2 separate regions of the Homo sapiens genome follow, and region 2 is linked to region 1. A link means that fine-mapping ties the variant in region 1 to the plasma level of a protein whose gene starts in the linked region. Region 1 holds a variant in brackets. A gene starts in the other region. All regions are shown on their forward strands.

Region 1 (2,918 bases):
CTTTGCCCATTTTTAATTATTAGTTTTTCCACAATTGAGTTGTAAGAGTCTCTTATTGAAAGTCTGCTGGTATTACAGGTTTATAGCTCAGTTTTTTGAGCTTTATTATAAATCTGACTTTCAGAAATAGATCTGCTTCCCTTAAAAAAATCTAGTTCCTGGATGAGGCTGATAGACCTTTGATCAAAGTCCATTCTCCTTGGTAATGAATGCTCCTTGTTTCTTAGGACAGCCAACTGGTATATCCTTAGACAAACTCCTAATTCTCTATGCAAAGCCATTATCATGGTTTTCTATAATAAATAAGATAAACAAGCAGGAACTAATAGAAATTTAATGTTGTTTTAAGATAATACTTAAATATTAAGAAAGCTAAAATTTAAAATGTGTTGACTAGGTTTTTCTACACAATTATATTTACATAATGACTAAGGTAAAACCTTTCCACAAATAGTTGCCCAGGAGGAAGAAAAAGCAACCTACAACAGTCTCTGGGGCTTGCACTGCCTTCTCAGGCCAGCTATACCCTAGCTGAGCAAAGAACTGAAGAAGCAAGTGTCCACTCCCCACCCCTCTCCCCTGCCCCCCTTTTGTTACTTGAAGTGTTTCTGAGTAACAAATGCAAAACTAGGTTTGAATATAAAAGCTAGACGACCATGCCAATTCAGGATTGTGTTTCATCTGAGGAGACCTGGCATAGAAAAAACAAGAATTCTCTCTCATTTACAAGGATACTGTGATGAAAGTCAAAGATCACACATAAATTTATGATCTCTGAGCAAAGGCACAGCTAGCATAAACTCATCTGTAAAATGAGGGGTTTTGACTTGGCCATCTGTCAAGGTCCATTCAGCCTGTCAAGCTAGCGTCAAAGTTCAGATCTTCCACGATGAAAGAACTTGCCCTCTGCTAAGGTGGATGCAGAAAGAAAAGTCCCATTATATTGTGGGACCAACCTTCTGATATAAAAAACTATGTTGGGATTAAAGTAGATCAATAAAGTATAAATATTTATCATAGTTGTAGGGTAAATATTCAAAAGTTTGAAATTTATGTATACTGTAAAACTGGCAAACTGGTCTTAAACACATAAAGCAAAGATTTTCCCATGGGGAGAGAAAATTTGAGAGTAAGCCCAGTGAATTACTTAAGTCCTGAGCGTCCATAATCTGCATCCATGATGCCTCTCTTTTTTTCCAGGTCACTTGGACAAGAATATTTCTTGTCTTATGTTGGTTCTGAAACACCTTTTTTAAAAAAAGCATCAAGAAATTATGATTCAGGGGTTTGAAACCCCAATGTTACAGGCAGCGCCTCATTTCTAC[G/A]GAATATAAAACATTTTGTTTCTTCCACTTCTAACAGTTCATCAAGAGAAGCCACTACTAAATCGTGTTCCTGCAGCATTTCTGGGTAGCGGGACACTGCTCGCTCAATCCTCGACGAACGCCGTACAGGAGTGATAAATTTCATGTCTTGCACTTCCGGCATCCCATTTATTCTGAGAGACAGCAAGAGATGCATTAAAAACCTTATCATTTAAAAAAATTATCTTTATTATTTTTTGTTTCTTATTCAATAATAAAACAGGGAAGACATTTTAACATAGGGTGATACAAGAGATATGTCTAGAGCAGCTTTCATCTTCAGATGGCTTTTTCTAGGAGTTCGAGACCAGCCTGGGCAACATAGCAACACACTATCTTTACCAAAAAATATAAAAATTAGCTGGGCATGGTGGCACACACCTGTAATCCCAGCTACTCAGGAGGGTGAAGTGGGAGGACTGCTTGAGCCCAGAAGGTCAAGGCTGCAGTGAGCTATGATTATGCCATTGTACTCCAGTCTGGGCAACATGGCAAGACCCCAGTCTCAAAAAAAAGGCTTTTCCCTGATTTCCAGAATGTACTGGGTGGTGTCCATCTGTTCTTGGATGGTGTAAGCATAAGGATTTATTGAATGAAGTATGAAGTGTGGTTTTTATTTGAAGTCAAATATTTGGCAGTTGGTGTTCATTTATTCTATAAACTTTCAAAACAGATGACAAGTTTTAAGGAAATGGGGCCTAATACCAAATTTGGTTGAATTAATGAATTCCAAGATTCTTTCTAGCTTTTTCTTTTTAAAGACAGGGTCTCACTCTGTTGCCCAGGCTAGAGTCCAGTGGTGCAATCACAGCTCACTACAGCCTCAACCTCCTAGGATCAAGGCATCTGTCCACCTCAGCCTTTCAAGCTGGTGGGAGCACAAACGTATGCCAGCATGCCTGGCTAATTTTTTATTTTTCATAGAGTTGGGGTCTCCCTATGCTGCCCAGGCCACTCTTGAACTCCTAGGCTCAAGTAATCCTCCTGCCTCGGCCTACCAAAGTGACAGGATTACAGGCATGAGCCACCATGTGCCCAGCCTTTTCATTTTTTTTTTGAGATGGAGTTTCACTCTTGTTGCCCAGGCTGGAGTGCAATGGTGCAATCTTGGCAGACTTGCCTGCTAGTTTTCCTTAGGCTAATGTAATTAGTGGTTTTGTGAATTCTAGAGCCATTAAGAGGTAGTTTTTGGATTAACTGTTTTCATCTACTTATGAGCTGACTGTAGTTCATCCACTTATGAACTGAACTGTTTTCATCCTCTTATGAGCTGACTGTAGTGGGAAAATGGTGTGTGTCAGAGAGTTTAGGATTGGAAGAGATTCGGCTGTGCTTTCCAGGTAACTAAAACAAAGAACTGTTGTCTTGGTGCCCTTGTTTGGAATTCTTTCCAGATCATGATCAGAGAAGAGTGGTGCTACACTCACATTTTAGAAAATGACACTGACGCCCTGACATAGCTCCTTAAATTACTATGGATTCTGCCTTAAATTTATATTTGTTAAAAAATAAAACGTTTCTGACTTTATGAGCAGTCTCTGACTAGTACATACT
Region 2 (2,918 bases), not on the chromosome of region 1:
ATCCTGTCATTTGCAACAACATGGATAGAAGTGGAGGTCATTATAAGTGAATTAAGCCAGGCACAGAAAGACAAATTTTACATATTCTCACTTGTTTGTGGAAGCTAAAAATATTAAGACAATTGAACTTATGGAGATAGAGATTAGAATGATGATTACTAGAGGCTGGGAAGAGTAGTAGCGGGGGAAGTGGGGATGGTTAATGGGTACAAAAATATACTTAGATAGAATTAATAAGATCTAGTGTTTGTTAGAACAAGAGGATGACTATAGTCAACAATAGTTTATTGCACATTTCAAAATAACTAAAAGAGTATAATTGGATTGTTTGTAATACAAAGAATAAATGCTTGAAGTCATTTACCCTGATGTGATTATTACTCATTGTATGCTCGCATCAAATATCTCATGTACCCCATAAATATATATATCTACTATGTGTCCACAAAAAATTTTTAAAAATAATAAGAATTGGCTTAAAAAATGCTGTTTCCTGGGCCCCACCCTAGACTGATGGTCAGATACCTAATGTTGACAAAAAAAGTCAAACTCTGTAAAACATTTGAAGAGATTTATTCTAAGCCAAATATGAATGACCTATGGCCTGTGACACAGCCCTCAGGAGATCCTGAGAACATGTGCCAGGCCACAACTTGGTTTTATACATTTTAGGGAGACATAAGGCATCAATCAATACATGTAAGGTGTACATTGGCTAGGTCCAGAAAGGTGGGACAATTGGAAACAGGGAAGCGGGGCAGCTTCCAAGTCATAGGCAGATTCAAAGATTTTCTGATTGACAATTTGTTGAAAGAGTTATTATCAATAGAAAGGAATGTTTGGAGACATCCAATAGAAATTCAATAGACAATCATTAGAAAGGAATGTCTGGGTCGTGGAGACCAAGGTTTTATTATGCAGATGAAGCCTCCAAGTAGCAGGCTTCAGAGAGAATAGGTTGTAAATGTTTCTTAATACACTTAAAAAGAGCATGTTCTGGCTGGGTGCAGTGGCTCATGCCTGTAATCCCAGCACTTTGGGAGGCCAAGGTGGTTGGATCACCTGCTATCAGGAGTTCAAGACCAGCCTGACCAACATGGCGAAACCTCGTCTCTACTAAAAATACAAATATTAGCCGGGCATGGTGGTGGGTGCCTGTAATCCCAGCTACTCGGGAGGCTGAGGCAAGAGAATCACTTGAACCCAGGAGGCAGAGGTTGCAGTGAGACGCAATCATGCCACTGCATTCCAGCCTGGGCAACAGAGTAAGACTCTGTCTCAAAAAAAAACAAAAACAAAAACAAAAAAAGAGTGTGTTCTATTAGTAATTCCAAAAGGAAAAAGGATGTAATGAGGCATATCCAGCTTCCCCTTCACATCAGTTTTCAGGTTAACTTTGGAATGCCCTTGGCCAAAAGCAGGGGTCCAGTCACATGGTTGGTGAGTATGGCCTTAGAATTTAATTTTTTGGTTTACATTAGGAATGCTTCCACATTCTCTCAAACAAATTTTAGTCACAGTTTTGAATAACGTACTCTGGCTCAGCCATTGCAGGTCTCAAGCCGTTAGGTTTCATTTTCCTCCTCCCAACGATTTTAAATTAGTTTCACTTTCCAGTTTCCTCTTCCTTCCCCTAAAAGCAATTACTCAAAAACGGAGAAAACATCAGCTGATGCGTGCCCTACTCTCCCACCCCTTTATATAGTTCCTTCAGTATTTACTTGAGGCAGACAGGAAGACTTCTGAAGAACAAATCAGCCTGGTCACCAGCTTTTCGGAACAGCAGAGACACAGAGGGCAGTCATGAGGTCAGTGAAATAAGAATGCATAATCATGCTTGTTTTTGAGTGCAAATTGTAAGTTGAGTTTCTTACTGTGCAGGCACATTCCTGAATTGTCCTGATGTTTATAGATTCAATATGTCTTTATCAGTCTGAGCATTTGTAAGATGTTTGAGGGGTTTTTCCCTGTGGCTTTTTTTGGTGTACACACAGGCTTCTTAAGTTTCTGGAATGGTTCCCTACGGAACTACATGGGGGGAGGCAGGGTGGGGAATGCATCAGCTCATGTTTCCTCCCTGTGTGCAGCTATTTCCTGCAATGAGAGGAAGGCTTGGCAGGAGCGGTGTATTTCACTCAGCCACAAACTTGGCTGATTCAAGGGTAGACCTAAGGGAATTACTCTTTTGGGTTTTTCTGTTATTGTCATTTTGTTTGAAAAGATTAAGTCACAGGCTTTTTTTCTTGTAATTTTAAAAGGAGGAATTTATTTTCAACAGATATTGTGAAAGATACAATCAGTACTGCAAACCCACTCATGAAGAAGGCAATTTTGCCCTGAAACGTTGCATTACTTTAAGGTGGGAAGTGGAAGAAACAATTCTTACAAATGGGCATTTTTGTCATTTCTTATATAAAAACAAACCCAAAGCTTAGCATTTATTTTTATTGATGTAGTGAATGCTGGTCAGCAGCAAAAAAAGAATTTCTCCTCAAAAGTGTAATGACCTAATCTATTATCTAAAACTAGTCTAATCTCTAATGGTGGGAAGCAGATCAGTGGTTGCCTGGAGATGGTGGGGATTGAGTAGGAAGGCTCCCAAAAGAATCTTTTTAGAATCATAGGAATAGTCTATAGGGAGGTAGTGATGGTGGCTACATATGCATAAACATTTACCAAAACTCATCAGACTATACACTGAAAATGGGTGCATCTTATTGTATATAAAGCATAATCTCAGTAAACTTGATTTTTAAATTTATATATTGACCTCCTGGAGTTCTTCAGGGGATAGCATGTTAGGGAGAACTAAGAGAAAAGGATGCCTTTCCCACCAAGCATCTCTAGGAAAGGAGTGAGGAGGTGATTGCCAGGGAGGGAAGACCCCATCGACCATTCAGGGGGGCAGAAAAGGAAAA

Alleles and levels. Alleles are on the strand shown, and positions count from the first base shown. The strength of an association depends on the size of the effect and on how common the allele is.
With allele G in place of A in region 1, the plasma level of the protein whose gene starts at base 1,727 in region 2 is lower (weak association).

The links. PIP is the chance, under the fine-mapping model, that this variant and not a neighbour inherited with it causes the effect. The UK Biobank Pharma Proteomics Project read protein levels with antibody pairs (Olink). The fine-mapping took linkage between variants from a reference panel, not from the people measured, so its PIPs are less certain.
Region 2: it holds the start of IFIT3, and the variant in region 1 is fine-mapped to the plasma level of the IFIT3 protein (UK Biobank, PIP above 0.99).

Annotation. Positions count from the first base shown.
Region 1 is chr2:112,737,551-112,740,468 of GRCh38, forward strand. NT5DC4 (5'-nucleotidase domain containing 4) reads left to right here. Exons shown (of 17, transcript NM_001393655.1): 17 at 1,363-1,545. The coding sequence ends at 1,386. CKAP2L (cytoskeleton associated protein 2 like) reads right to left here. Exons shown (of 9, transcript NM_152515.5): 9 at 1-1,498. The coding sequence ends at 1,273. Among named protein-coding and RNA genes, the nearest start is that of NT5DC4, 18 kb to the left of the region's middle. The variant G/A (reference allele first, on the strand shown) is at 1,326.
Region 2 is chr10:89,326,271-89,329,188 of GRCh38, forward strand. IFIT3 (interferon induced protein with tetratricopeptide repeats 3) reads left to right here and starts at 1,727. Exons shown (of 2, transcript NM_001549.6): 1 at 1,727-1,808. The coding sequence starts at 1,804. It also overlaps a transcript of LIPA not described here. RefSeq lists an enhancer at 1,495-1,734 and a silencer at 2,055-2,104.